Homo sapiens: one gene and its partners. The protein of the gene in region 1 interacts with the protein of each later gene in a pairwise test. Each region holds a gene or a part of one and is shown on either strand. Other genes may lie near its edges.

Region 1 (3,633 bases):
TATGGGAATCTTAATACAGTGTTGTGGATATGACTAAAAACACAGGAGTCAGATCTTCTTGGTTCAACTTCCTGCTTACTCCTTACCAGCTGTGTGTTTTTTGCAAGATTCTTCACCTCTGTGTGATTTAGCTTCCTCATCTATAAAATAATTCAGTGAATTAATGTACACAAAACATCTGGAAAACAAAAGCAAACAATATGTATTTTATAAGTGTTACTTATAGTTTTATAGTGAACTTTCTTGTGCAACATTTTTACAACTAGTGGAGAAAAATATTTCTTTAAATGAATACTTTTGATTTAAAAATCAGAGTGTAAAAATAAAACAGACTCCTTTGAAACTAGTTCTGTTAGAAGTTAATTGTGCACCTTTAATGGGCTCTGTTGCAATCCAACAGAGAAGTAGTTAAGTAAGTGGACTATGATGCCTTCTAGGGACCTCCTATAAATATGATATTGTGAAGCATGATTATAATAAGAACTAGATAACAGACAGGTGGAGACTCCACTATCTGAAGACGGTCAACCTAGATGAATGGTGTTCCATTTAGTAGTTGAGGAAGAACCCATGAGGTTTAGAAAGCAGACAAGCATGTGGCAAGTTCTGGAGTCAGTGGTAAAAATTAAAGAACCCAACTATTACTGTCACCTGATGATCTAATGGAGACTGTGGAGATGGGCTGCATTTTTTTAGTCTTTTCCAGAATGCCAAAATGTAAACACATATCTGTGTGTGTGTGTGTGTGTGTGTGTGTGTGCGTGTGTGTGAGAGAGAGAGAGAGACTGAAGTTTGTACAATTAGACATTTTATAAAATGTTTTCTGAAGGACAGTGGCTCACAATCTTAAGTTTCTAACATTGTACAATGTTGGGAGACTTTGTATACTTTATTTTCTCTTTAGCGTATTAAGGAATCTGAGATGTCCTACAGTAAAGAAATTTGCATTACATAGTTAAAATCAGGGTTATTCAAACTTTTTGATTATTGAAAACTTTCTTCATTAGTTACTAGGGTTGAATGAAACTAGTGTTCCACAGAAAACTATGGGAAATGTTGCTAGGCAGTAAGGACATGGTGATTTCAGCATGTGCAATATTTACAGCGATTGCACCCATGGACCACCCTGGCAGTAGTGAAATAACCAAAAATGCTGTCATAACTAGTATGGCTATGAGAAACACATTGGGATAAATCGGCTGCTATCATAATCATTCCTCTCCCACATCAGATAAATGAATTAACTTTTTGAATAGGGTTATTTAATATAAAGTGCTTAAGTCTAATTATGAGAAGAAATAAGATAATTACACTTCAATGGTTAAAGAGAGGGAGAATAATTTGCATATTATGCCTGATGTAAAATGTTTATTATGGGTACATATTAAGTGCTAACTAATTGTTAATTGTTCTTGCTACAAGTCTTAATGCAGGGAAACAAGAAATTATTACATAGTACCTAATATTATCTTCTAATATTAAAGAAACAATTTCCCCTAAATTCATCCCATTAGCTTTTTTTTTTTCGGTGGGGCAGGGGAGAAATACAGACTTCAGTAAACTTGGGCTGGGAACTTTCTACCTACAAAGTTCAAATAAAATAAATTATCCTAGTTAGATAATATCAATGAAAAATCCACCAACTTAAATCCTGGCTGTTTGATCTCAGGAAATTATTTCAGTTATCAACTTAATGCATCATATTATAGAAATATATGAAAATGTGTTTAATTAAACTTACTGAATGATATGTTTTTTCAGGTACTTTAAAAATAAACTATGATATAAAGTTACCTATTTTTCATGCAAGTATAGTATAAAGAAATTTCTAACACTGGAGATTTTCTGAAGGTTTTGATTCTTATAAATTTATTACATCATAATGAACAAAACTAATTTTCAACATATTATGATTTAAATTTCCTTAGTAAATTGTTTCAAATTTATTTTCTTTAAATCCATATTTACATATGTATATTTAAATATACATATTTACTTGTATAACAATTCAAAACCATATATTAATTTTATAATTTTGTTTAATGTCAAAGGTTAGATTTGGCTATATCTATTCTAAAAGTTGGTATCACATTTCCTTTTTGGAATTTTATTTTTAAAGTAGCTAAAGTCAAATATAAACCTATTATTTATATTAATGCAGACATTAGAGGTAGACACTAAATTCATTTTAGTATATTCTAAATTATTTATTATCTACTATGAAATAATATAAAGAAAAATAAAGCAGAATCCCTGATTTCAAAGAACTCAATTGCCGAAAAACAGTTACCATTTATTAGACCCAAAATGTACTAATATGAGTGTGTCTCTTTTCCTTTTGTTTTGTCACCCGTCATTTGGAATGTCAGTGAGTAGAGAGATAGTGTGAAAGGCCCTCAAGGGGAAAAATAGAGGTTAAAGGTCAGCAGAGACCCTACTAGAGAAATCAGTTCTACAGAAATGTTTTTAAATGTGTCGATTATTGCTACATGTACACTCTGTCATTTTGTAATGTAGCCATTTTATTTATGATTATAATAATAAAACAACAAAATTATAATAATGTGTAGAGTACATTTTACTGTGCAGTGTATTGCATTAAAACTAGATTAAAATTTATACATATATAAAAGGCTATCTAGATATTATAAAATTTATGGCTGGATCTGTAAAAAATTCAAAACCTATTTTTAATCTCGCTTTGAGATTTTATAACAAGAAAATGTTCGTTTCAAGCAAAATTTTCAATTCACGTCCTTGAAAAGGAAAAAAATGACAACTTGAAACACATAATTGACTATTTTTAAAGGATCAACATTTCAGAAATGTTTTAAAACATAAGATTTTCAGTACAGCTTTTCGCTGGCATTTAAATCGAACTTTGAATTGTAAATAGCTCTTGCTCTTAAGGAGACATCAGCCATATCCTTAGAAGTGGCACGGAGTTGTTAGGTAGTTGTACAAAATTCTAGCCTAAAAGACAAATAGGGAGCAACACTACTGTGGACCGTTTCTGGTCTTGGGCTGTGTGGCTATGTCAGGCTTGCCCACATTGCCTGTACTAAGGAGAAAGCCTCTTGTCCTTACAGACCCCCTTAGCTTACATAGTCTATTTGAAAACAAATTGCTTTGTCCACACCATTTAAATATTGGCTTCAGGCCAGGCGCGGTGGCTCACGCCTGTTATCCCAGCACTTTGGGAGGCTGAGGCGGGCAGATCACGAGGTCAGGAGATCGAGACCATCCTGGCTAACACGGTGAAACCCTGTCTCTACTAAAAATATAAAAAAATTAGCCGGGTGTGGTGGCGCGCACCTGTAGTCCCAGCTGCTGGGGAGGCTGAGGCAGGAGAATGGCCTGAACCCGGGAGTCGGAGTTTGCAGTGAGCCGACATCGTGCCACTGCACTCCAGCCTGGGTGACAGAGCAAGACTCCGTCTCAAAATAAATAAATAAATAAATAAATAAGTAAATATTGGCTTCTTCAACTGGTGAGATGAAACCTATACAATAGTCATGTGAATAGCACTAAACAGCTGACATGGTGTAACTCCTCTCAGACTGAGGCTTATCTGGGGAGTACAAAGCATGTCAAGAAAATGTGCCTTCATTTCCTTAGATGAGTGTCCCCATC
Region 2 (3,633 bases), on another chromosome or scaffold:
GAAAGGGGGGTGGCTTTACTTGGCTCCAACACACCAGTTAAAAGCCAACCAGAAGTCAGGGCCTATAATAGGAGAGACCCTTTGTGAATTCATTAATCAGATTATGTGCTCAGACTTTTCTTATCAATTTGAATCATTAAACTAGATGTAAGATTGCCATTATTGGAGTTATTAGTATACAGGTTTCCATAAACAGTAATAATGCAGTGGAATTTCTACAATGTAGACTTTATAACTGAATTAATTCCCAAAAATATGGTTGATAATTTCAGATAATTACAATCTTTTGAGGTCTAAAGATTCAGTAGTGTTAATGAACCATTCTCTAAAATAGAAACAAGCCCACTGATGAAATGTATTAGTAAAAAAACTTAAACAAATCTGTTATATTCAAAGAAATATAAATAAAAACATTTGTAACAATACTGGGCTAGTAGCAAAAAATAAGTGTACACTTACATTTCAGCTAAAAAGCCCAGAAGTGGGAGAGTCAAAGAACACTCAGTGGGCTGCAGAAAAGGACTATCTGCCCTTCCTGGTCCTGACCACCAAAGTGTCAAGATGTCTGGGAGGATGAACCTGGGAAATGAGCTGTAAGAGTCGCTCTCTGCAAAATCAAGTCAGGAGCTAGGATGTAAATAATACAAGGGGTCCTACAAGTTGTGCCAGCCTGTGCAGCTAAAGTACTAATATCATAAAATGCAGCTAGGATAACTAAATAGCTAGCTATGACAGGATCAGAAATCTGATTTTATATGAGCTGGATTAGTTATGTTCCTGTATTCGTCTATTACATCTAAGTATTTGGTAAAAAAAACACTGTTTGAAAGCTCAGTCTGTCTCAGCCATGCCTAGGGGTAATGAAGGAAAGGTTTTAGGCTTGGTGTTAATTATTTTCAGGAATAATACACCATGAAAAGCAGCATACAAGCGGGAGTGGAAATCAAACCCAAGAATCCCTAGTAGGGTCAATCCTGGCTGCCTTTGTAGACTCCCATAGCCCCAAGTCTAGAGATTTCTTTTCAACAACTAAAAATCCTAACCAAGTTTTTCTTTTAATAAAGGAGATGGCTATTCCCAACAGCATCTTATATTCAAATTCACTCTTTTATTGACTCAGCAAATATTTTCTGAGCACTTACTACAAGCTATGAGAAATCTGTATCATAATCTGTACCATTAGGGTGGTTGCAATTACCTTAGATCATGCCTACATACGTAAAATGTTCAAACAATTCTCTGTAACTCATCACGTGCCAAGTGATGAAGAGAAAAGTGATGAATGCCAATAATAACTAATGTAGGAGGAATCAGTATGGGGGAGAATGGCTGAACAAAAGCTTTAAGGATGAAGGTGAACAAACTGGCTCATGAGATGAGGACAGGCTGCAATGTGGGAATAAGGTGTTTGCAGGGAAGGAAGAAGACTGCTATGTCTGGCTCTTCCACTAGATTGTATATTCCACGAGGACAGGTCAGTATTTTGCTCTGAAATGTACCACCAGCAACTAGTATAGTGCCTAGAATGTTGTGAGAAATGAATGAGCTGGTGTGCCTGAAATGAAGAATTGAGATTAACAAGACAGGTTGTAGAAGAGACCGTGGAGGACCCTGACTATTAGATTAATCAGTCTGGACTTGACCTCCTAGTTGAACCTTTGCAAGGCAAGCAGGGTTACTGATGTATTAACCTGGCAGTGATTGTTTCAGATTTAAGGGAGGAGAGTTGGGAGGCAGAAGTATATGATGGGGTATTCTACTAAATTAGATATGAAGAAGAGAAGTCCTAGACTCAAGAAGTGGCAGGAAAATGGAAGTAGGGGGTAGATATCAACAGGTCATGGTGAAGGACCGAACCACAAATCCAAGGAGAGAGAGGAGTCCCTGCGCTTGGGTTGACAGGAGACATTTTTTCTTGTTCATGAATATTTCCTCTCTCTCCTAGAAGTTATCCGTTTTTAAGCTTCAATTATTATCACCTTTGTATGATGAAAATGGTCCAGGCCGGTATTAACATCAACTCCGGGATTGTAGAACTCTTACCATCCTCCTCCCCTCATCTCAACTTGCCCTCTAATAAAATATCTTGTCCCATGCTAGTTATTTCTGGAGAATACCTGTTTCTTCTTAAAGATCATCTTCTGAAAGGGAAAACAGTAAGGGGAGCGAAGGGGATTATTGAAAATGCAGAGTTAGAGTGTTTGCTGAGGAGAGTGCATTAGGGAGTTGATAGGAGATGACTGCAAGATTTCTGAACTCTATCTTATAATCTGTGGTATAAATTATGAGTGCTGCATGGTTCCTTCTTTTCTAGATTTTAGTAGTCTGTATAGAAAAGGATAAATCCAACAATGAAGGTAATGAATGGGAAAACTGGGTATAAAATAATACCAATGAGATGATAATTTCAACATGGATGAAGGTGACCCTTGAACAGTCATTCAAGAAGTCCAAGCAGGAAGAGGCTAGTCAGCCCAAGGAAGAGTCTAGCTAGCTCAGCAAGCCTGAGATCATGTGCCAAGCCACATCGCATGCAGGAATGAAAATTAAGATAGGAAGAAAAAATACTCTGTGTATATGGGAAAATACCACAAATTACACATAAATTCTGATGTTTTGCATATAGAAACAGTAAAACTAATCTATATATAATTTAGGTTCCAAAACAGCACAATTTTCTAAGGTTTAAGTGTTAAGAATGGAACAAAAAGGCACAAGTTAACAGAATAATTAAAACTGATACCTGAAGAATCTGGTCTCCAGCAAGAAGTCTCCCGTCTCTGGCAATGACCCCATCCCGATAGACCTCCTGGATGACAATGTTAATCAAAGGTGTTTCGTTGCCACCCACAATGCTGATTCCTAACTGAATGTAAGGATTGGACCGATGAATTTCAATCGTGGTGATTTCTCCTTCTGGTAAACTAAGTGGCTGTTGTGTGGCTGCCAAGTTAAAAATGAGACAGACAAAAACAGATGTTAAAAAAATAAACAAACCCAACAATTTATATTCTGATTATCTTCAGGTAAGTATGTCACATTAATACATGATTAACAGCTAAGCAGTATCACTGGATAAGAAACAAAATGACAAAATATCTGTTGTTAAGATTATCTAAAAATTTTCTCTACTAAAACTGATCAGTAAATAATAAATAGCTACTATGTATCAGATCACTAGGGACGACACAGTGATCTGATTAAGAAATATGAAAAGAAAGTCATTCTGTCCTCATTGATGAGAGAAAATTTGGACCACGAAACAACTGTACATAATGAGAGGCAGTACAAAGGAAACACTAGCTCTGTGGCATAGAAACAGCACAGGTGTTGAGAGAGTAGCCACATCAAGCTCGTAAGAAGAGGTGGGTCTTGAACGGAGACGTAGGAAATGAAGAAGGCGCATAGTTGCGGCAAGGAAAATTCAAATTTGTAGTAGAGCTTGGAAAAAGAAAATCATTTTTAAAAGGAAATATCAAGGGCCCACTACCATGATATGCCCAAGATCCATGACTACGGGCCTTCTGTTAACTTCCTAGTGGGTAACAGAGCAGTGGCTGGTACCAGAGGTGTATAACGGTGAGATGCATGGTCTTGGAGTCAAATACAAACCCAGTCATTTACTGGTTGTAT
Region 3 (3,633 bases), on another chromosome or scaffold:
CTCAGAATACCTTCTTAGTTTCAACTTTTGTTGACAGATCTTTCTGAAAAGATCCATGTACAGTGTTTTAAAATCTCCTCAGGATAGACATTCTGAGTAAGGATTCTTATGTGGTGTAGATAAATTGTATCTTCTACATATACAAAGTGGCTGGGCTCAGAAATTCCTTTTCTTTGTTTTTGAGACAGGGTCTTGCTCTATCGCATAGGCTGGAGTGCAGTTGGGTAATCACTGCTCGCTGCAGCCTCTACCCTCCTGGCACAATCCATCTGCCCACCTTAGCCTCCAGAGTAGCTGGGACTAGAGGTGCCTGCCTCCATGCCCAGCTGATTTTTAAAAATTTTTTGCAGAAATAAGGTTTTACCATGTTGCCCAGGCTGGTCTTGATCTCCTGGGCTTAAACAATCTGCCCACCTTGGCCCCACAAGGTGCTGGGATTACAGGTGTGAGCCACCGTGCCCCGCCAGTTCTTTTTATGTTGTTGCAAATGTTCCTCTCTCCTTTTATTGTACTACTGAGGACATTCTTTCCTCATTTGCTTAATTTTTTCCCCCATAATTCTTCAAGAATCTTCGCTTTTCTCTGTTTGGGCTACCATTACGGGAGAGTTCTTGGTTAGTAACTAGGGTTAATTATTCATTCATTCTACAGATATTTGTTGAGTACCTTTTAAGTTCAAGATAAAGTTCTGAAATTGACGAGGCTGCATGTCTCAAAGGGCATGCCATAGAAATATTAATCCTATGAGATGTGTCGCAAAAAAAAAAAAAAAGGGTTCAGTGACCAAGTAAGTTATGGAAATGAGCATAGTCTGTTTCGTTGGAGATTTGCGGTATACCTTAATATGTTAAAGATGATGAGAAGTCCATTTCCCCAACTTTTTTCACCATGAGACTGTTTTCTTTCTTTTTTAAAGAGACTTTTATTTTCTACTGCTTGTTAACTTAATTTTGTGAATTACAAGGTACATATTTTGGAAAATAGAATTAAGTATAGAACTTGTCCTTATCAAATAGAGGGAGAGAAGGTGGATATATGATACTATACTCTTAAAAATAAGGTTATAAATGGTTTCAAAGAGGTCTAGATGTGCCATAGGTGTTGAGAGGATGGGAAGATTGCCTCTAGAAGAAAGAAAGGATTAGAAGGTGGCATTTGAATTACCTACAGAGGATAAATTAGATTTGAGTTTGTGGAACTGGATGGAGGGACTTTTCAGTAAAGCAGACAATAAAAGCTAAGACATAAAGGGAGGGTTGTAGGCCCTGGAGATAAGGGGAGCATTCATTTTGGCTGGAGTATATATAGCACACATAAAGAGGAAGAGTGGCATGTAAGGTAAATCGGGGTTTAATTTTGGAGGTCCTAAATGCCAGGATTAAAATTTCATTTTTTTTTCTTTCTGTAAATATAGGTTCCTTGATAATAGTGCTTGAGGTCAGGTAATTTGGCTATGATAGCAATGGCTGTTTGACTTCCAAATTAGAGTATGAATATTGAAGAACACCTTTTCCCACATTTATTTGTCTCTTAATTTTTCAAACTAAATTACAAAAGCTAGTTAAACAGAGTTGTTGAAAATGATGTCTCTTGTTCAATTAGCTAGCCAGGTATATACTAACGAACATGAGATACACAAGTAAGGAGCACCCCGTTACTGTCAAGGTGCTGAAATGCTATTTATTTTAACCATATTAGTTGTTAAGTGTTTATAGACCTTGGCTACCAATTGTAGTAACATGGATATGATAGAATGTATTCATTCTGCAAACGTTGAATGAATCTGTAGGCCAGACATTCCAGGTACTAGAGTTAAAAGATGTTGAGTTAAGCATCTGGTTGAGGAAGACAGACATGTTAATACATTAATACAGCGCAGTGGGAGTATAGAATCTTTTCCAGGGATTATTAGGAAAGGTTTCATTTAGTAATGGCATATAGAAATTGGATGTTGATGGATGAGTAGAGATTTTTCAGACAGGAGAAGGGCATTCCAAGGCAGAGACACAAGATGGCTCCAGTTTGTTGTAAGGTGAGGCAGTTGAGAAGAGTTAGGATGTGTATGTGCATATTTTAAGAATAGGGAGTGGTGGCAAGGCATTGAGACCATAGGAGTTCGAGGGCAGTTTTTTTGTTTTTTTGCTTTTTTTTTTTTTTTTTTTTTTTAGGCTGGAGTGCAGTGGCGTGATCTCAGCTCACTGTAACCTCTGCCTCTGGTTTCAAGCGATTCTCCTGCCTCAGCCTCCTGGGTAGCTGGGATTATAGGTGCCTGCCACCATGCCCAGCTAATTTTTTTATTTTTAGTAGAGATGGGCTTTCGCTGTGTTGGCCAGGCTGGTCTCGAACTCCTGACCTCATGATCGACCTGCCTCGGCCTCCCAAAGTGCTGGGATTACAAGCGTGAGCCACCGTGCCTGGCCAGTTTTTTTGTTTTTTGAGACAGGGTTTTGCTCTGTCACCCAGGCTGGAGTGCAGTAGTGTAATCACAGCTCACTGCAGCGTCGACCTCCTAGGCAAAAGCGATCCTCCCACCTCAGCCTCCTGAGTAGCTGGGACTACAGGCATGTGCCACCATGCTTGGCTAATTTTTTATTTTTTGTAGGGACGGGGTCTCATTGTATTGCCCAGGCTAGTCTCCAACTCCAGGACACAAGTGGTCCTCCCACCTAGGGCCTCCCAAGGTGCTGGGATTATAGGCATGAGCCACTGGGTCCAGCCTGGGGGAAGTTTTAAGAAGGCTTTTTATACCTCATGCAAGAGGGCTGACCTTACTTTTTTTGGGTAAGGGTCAGGGAGACAGACAATTTTAATGTTAGTGTGAAGAATGGCCTTCTATGGGGGAAGAAATTGTTAGCTGGGAAAATAGGGATCGTGGGCAACCTGACATAGTTCTTGTCATTTGGTAAGTGTTCCAGAATTATCTGTTGACTGATTAATCTGGCCAGATGAAAGTCTAACCTAATTCAATGGTGACAGAGAAGAAATTTGAAAAGAATTTTGGAGGAAGAATTAAAGGAATTTGATTACTGAGGAGTTAAAATTCCAAATTTGTAAACTTTGAAAAGTAGGTGGTTGGTGATTCATTAACTGTGACAGAGAAAATTAGAAGGACCCTTGCAGGGGGAAGAAATAATATATTCATTAAGTATATATATACACACACACATATATACGTATATATACACACACATATATATACATATATATATACATATATACTTAATGTATATATATACACTTATGTATATATGTATATATGTATATATACTTAATGTATAAATATATACATATATGTATATATATACTTAATATATGTGTATATATATACGTATATATATATACACACACACACACACACACACACACATATGTATTTACACTTTGAGTTTTTAGCAAGACATCCTGGTAAAGAAGTCCACAAGGCAAATGGAAATATGAATTAGTAACTCAGAAAGAGATCACAGTTAGACATAGCAGTTTAGGAAGTATCACTTTATGTGGGTGGTAATTTAGCCAGGAGGTGGAAGACATCTCTCAGCTCTGCCTCTTACTAGTTGTGTGATCTTGGCAAGTTACCCAACCTCTTTGTACCTCAGTTTTCTCATCTGTAAAATGGGGGAAATAATGGTATCT
Region 4 (3,633 bases), on another chromosome or scaffold:
ATCCCACTTTTTCACCCTGAGAGAAGGATACTATTGTTTATGATTCCCATTTTGAGATCAGGACAGCAAGGCACACAGAGGCCATGTAACTTACTGACACTAACACAGATAGTCCTGGAACCCACATTTGAACTCAGTGGGCTCCAGAGCAGTGCTTGTGACTGTGATGCTACCCACTAAAGATGCATCCCTGTGCTCCTGGTGTCAGGCAGAGGCACTCACCATTTCATCATCTCTCTCTTCTCCATCCTCCTTGGTGTCAGCTTTCAGAGATAATTTTGGTTTTTTCTTCCGACTACACTTAGGATCTTCTTCCTCATTGTCTTCTTCTACGTCCCTTTCTTCCTTCTGATCTCTGTTGTGTTTATAAACCCAAAATAGTGACAAGAGACAATACCTATCAAACATCTACTTGTTGATTATCAATGCAACAATCATTAAAAAAAAATCACCCTGCAAAGGAAAAATCTTTAACTACCAGGAGAAATCTGTAGGCATGAGAATATCATATATCAGGAACACTGAAAACAACTATTACATATGACATCTGTCTGTCAGGGCAGAAAATGAAAATTACCTTATATATTAATTTCAAAAGGGGGCCAGCAATATGTATGAAATAGGTTCTAACAAGTTATTTGTCTGTCACATCTACCATCTATACTAATAAAAGAATTGATTATTTAGAGATATTTGTTTTCAGGGTCAAAGAAGGATCTAGCAGTTATTAAGAATGACAAATCCAATTGAAAAAAGGCTAAGTGTAACATTGTGAAACATCAGTTATCCAAGAAAAACAAGACAGTTCCAGTTGGGCGCAGTGGCTCACACCTTTAATCCCAGCATTTCGGGAGGCTGAGGCAGGCGGATCATGAGGTCAGGATATTGAGACCATCCTGGCTAACATGGTGAAACCCCGTCTCTACTAAAATAGAAAAAACTAGCTGGGTGTGGTGGCGTGCGCCTGTAGTCCCAGCTACTCGGGAGGCTGAGGCAGGTGAATTGCTTGAACCTGGGAATGTGGAGGTTGCAGTGAGCCAAGATCACGCCACTGCACTCCAGCCTGGCGACAGAACAAGACTTCATCTCAAAAAAAAAAAAAGAAAAAGAAAACATTTCCCAAGCCTGTGCTGATTAAAATACATGGGAAATGCCACTAAAATATAAATGTCCAGTCATTTCTTTGTAGTATACAATGATATGCAAGAAAAACACCTTCTTGGTGATAAGCTGAACTTTGTCAGACTGTCCCCAAATGGGAAGGTCACACACCACTACCAGTTACAGCTGATGCCTCTGTCTCATAATCCTCAGTCCACACCTTGAGATCATCAGTGACCCAACTCACTACACTCTTCCCTATGGCCATTTCCATTCAGCTGATTACGAATCAGTGGAAGCTTTATGCCGTAGGTGGAGTTTTAACCGAGTTACCTAAGAATTCCCAAAATATAAACAAAACTATGTTTCTATAAATGTCAGTGTCATCGAAATGTGTATATAGCCCAGAAAAAACTAAATACTCTTAGCTGAAGACAATCAAATGAATGGAAATGGAAGACTGAAGGCAGAGGCAGAGGCTGTTTTGCAGGCAGAATATTAGTAATACAACTCAGACCAGGCATGACAGACGTCACCAGGTCCCATATAGGGGTTAGGGCCCATGTGGCCCTAAAGGAAAAGTCTCTGGGAAAAAGGTATCAATAGGTGATCAATGTCCGAGAGCATAAAACTTCTATATTCTCAGGCACCATGACTTTGGAATCTAAAACTCAATTTATAGATGGAATGGGGCAAAAACCTACTTATCTTTGATGTGCCGAGCACAATTCTGGCTGCAATAGTTTCCTCCAGAAAGACACTCATCTACGTTGCCATACTGACAACAGTTCTCACAGAACTGAAGCCCTTCTACTTTCACTGGATCCTTCAACCTGAAAGGCATCCCAGTCTTCTCTGAAAAGACTAGAAGATGAAAAGAAGAAATGCAAATTACAACCATGACAGAAGACATTCTAAAATACAATCAAACTTTTTCTTCTAATAATTTTGTTAGCAACACAATAAAGAATAGTGTTTGCTGAATGAATGAATGATCAAATGATAGTGTTTTCGGGGGGTATGGGCTCTGTAAAAATCACTCAAGTCATTCAAATAATGAAAAAATATTCTGCAGAAAGGATAAAAGCTTGCCCAAGGCTTTTTCTACAGAGTTCAAAGTAAAATGAAGAAAATTTCACTAGTCACTAAATTCAGAAGACGCATATATCGATCTATAGAAACTTCTTCTATATTTGTATCTTTCAGAAAATTTCAGAGGATCTTCTTTTATTTCACATTTATAATCTTTTGATGAATGATTTTGTTTTACTTAATTGGCTAAATCAACATCTCTTCTATTACGCTTTCAATGTAGTACATTTCCTGACTCATAGCTATCCAAATTGTGTAGAAACTCGCATTTCCTTTTGCCTGAATTGTTAGGCTAATCATTCATTCAGCCAGCAGTTATTAGGCACCAATTTATTCTAGACATTAATAATGACAGTAGAGACCTTGCCCAAGAGAGCTCACAGTCTAGAAGAAAAGAGAGGCAAGAAAACCAGTATTTATAATAAAATGTGATACATGCAATACTAGAGGCATAAACAAGGTCCAGAAGTAGTACAGAAGAAGTGATTCATTCAGCCTGGGGTAAGGTCAGAGAAGGATTTTCTGATAGAAAGCCTCAACAGGGTTTTGAAGGCCAAAGAGGAATTTACCAACTGGACAAAGAGAGAAATGGCATTTGAGCCAGAAAAAGCAGTATGAGTAAAGGCAAGAAAGCATGAAACCACATGATGTGTTGGGAAAATTACACGTAATTCTGTGCTGCTGGCACTGCCAGAACACAACATACAAAGAAGGAAACAGAGACTGAGGAGACAAGGCGAGCAGGTAGGTGCAGGCACCCAGATCTTTGTATGTTCTGCTAAAAAGGCAATGAGAAATCAGTGAAGTGTCAGATAAGCAATCTACGTTAAGTTCCTCTGGCTTCAAGGTGCAGGACCAATTGGAAGGGGGTAAAATTAGAAGTAGAGTGACATCTGCAATAGTTCAGATGAGAGTTGAGAAGAGCCTACATTAAGGCCATGGCAAAGATGATAGATAGAAAAGGCCAGATCTGAGACATATTAGGAAATAAAAATCAAGAGGTATAAGTAACAGGATATGGGGATGGGAAGAACAAATTCAGGATGACTCCTGTGTTTCTTGCTTGTCCACTGGGTGGATGGTGCTATTGTCAACTGAAATATGGGTTAGGGAAGAAAGAGCAGGTTTGTGGGGAGGGGAGAAAGAAATAGAAAATGAATTGCATTTCAGACATGTGGAGTTTGAGGTACCTGTGGGACATCCAGGTGGAGATGTCCAGTAGGCAGGTGGAAATACGGGCCTGGAGCTCGGGGGAGAGGTCGGGGCTGGAGATGTAGATTTAGGAGTCATCAGCATATAGGTGTTAGTTACAACCATCGGAGTAGATGAGAAAAAAAGTGGCAGGCTTTTGGCTAAATCACCTGTGTAGGCTACAACATGGATTTACTTAATTTCCAACTAACCTTGTGCTACTACAGATCTGGCATTAGGACAAAGAAG

The links. The genes of interacting proteins can lie anywhere in the genome.
Region 2: the proteins of SNCA (region 1) and LNX2 interact in binary tests that used the Homo sapiens proteins (3 or more experiments, as listed by UniProt).
Region 3: the proteins of SNCA (region 1) and EXOC5 interact in binary tests that used the Homo sapiens proteins (3 or more experiments, as listed by UniProt).
Region 4: the proteins of SNCA (region 1) and L3MBTL3 interact in binary tests that used the Homo sapiens proteins (3 or more experiments, as listed by UniProt).

What each region holds. Positions count from the first base shown.
Region 1 is NC_000004.12:89,823,621-89,827,253, reverse strand, and holds part of SNCA (alpha-synuclein), read left to right. Parts: intron 1-3,633. UniProt on the Homo sapiens protein: Neuronal protein that plays several roles in synaptic activity such as regulation of synaptic vesicle trafficking and subsequent neurotransmitter release.
Region 2 is NC_000013.11:27,564,897-27,568,529, forward strand, and holds part of LNX2 (ligand of Numb protein X 2), read right to left. Parts: intron 2,944-3,633; coding exon 2,744-2,943; intron 1-2,743.
Region 3 is NC_000014.9:57,262,273-57,265,905, reverse strand, and holds part of EXOC5 (exocyst complex component 5), read left to right. Parts: intron 1-3,633. UniProt on the Homo sapiens protein: Component of the exocyst complex involved in the docking of exocytic vesicles with fusion sites on the plasma membrane.
Region 4 is NC_000006.12:130,049,581-130,053,213, reverse strand, and holds part of L3MBTL3 (lethal(3)malignant brain tumor-like protein 3), read right to left. Parts: intron 3,564-3,633; coding exon of another isoform or gene 3,459-3,563; coding exon 3,384-3,458; intron 1,966-3,383; coding exon 1,806-1,965; intron 356-1,805; coding exon 223-355; intron 1-222. UniProt on the Homo sapiens protein: Is a negative regulator of Notch target genes expression, required for RBPJ-mediated transcriptional repression. It recruits KDM1A to Notch-responsive elements and promotes KDM1A-mediated H3K4me demethylation.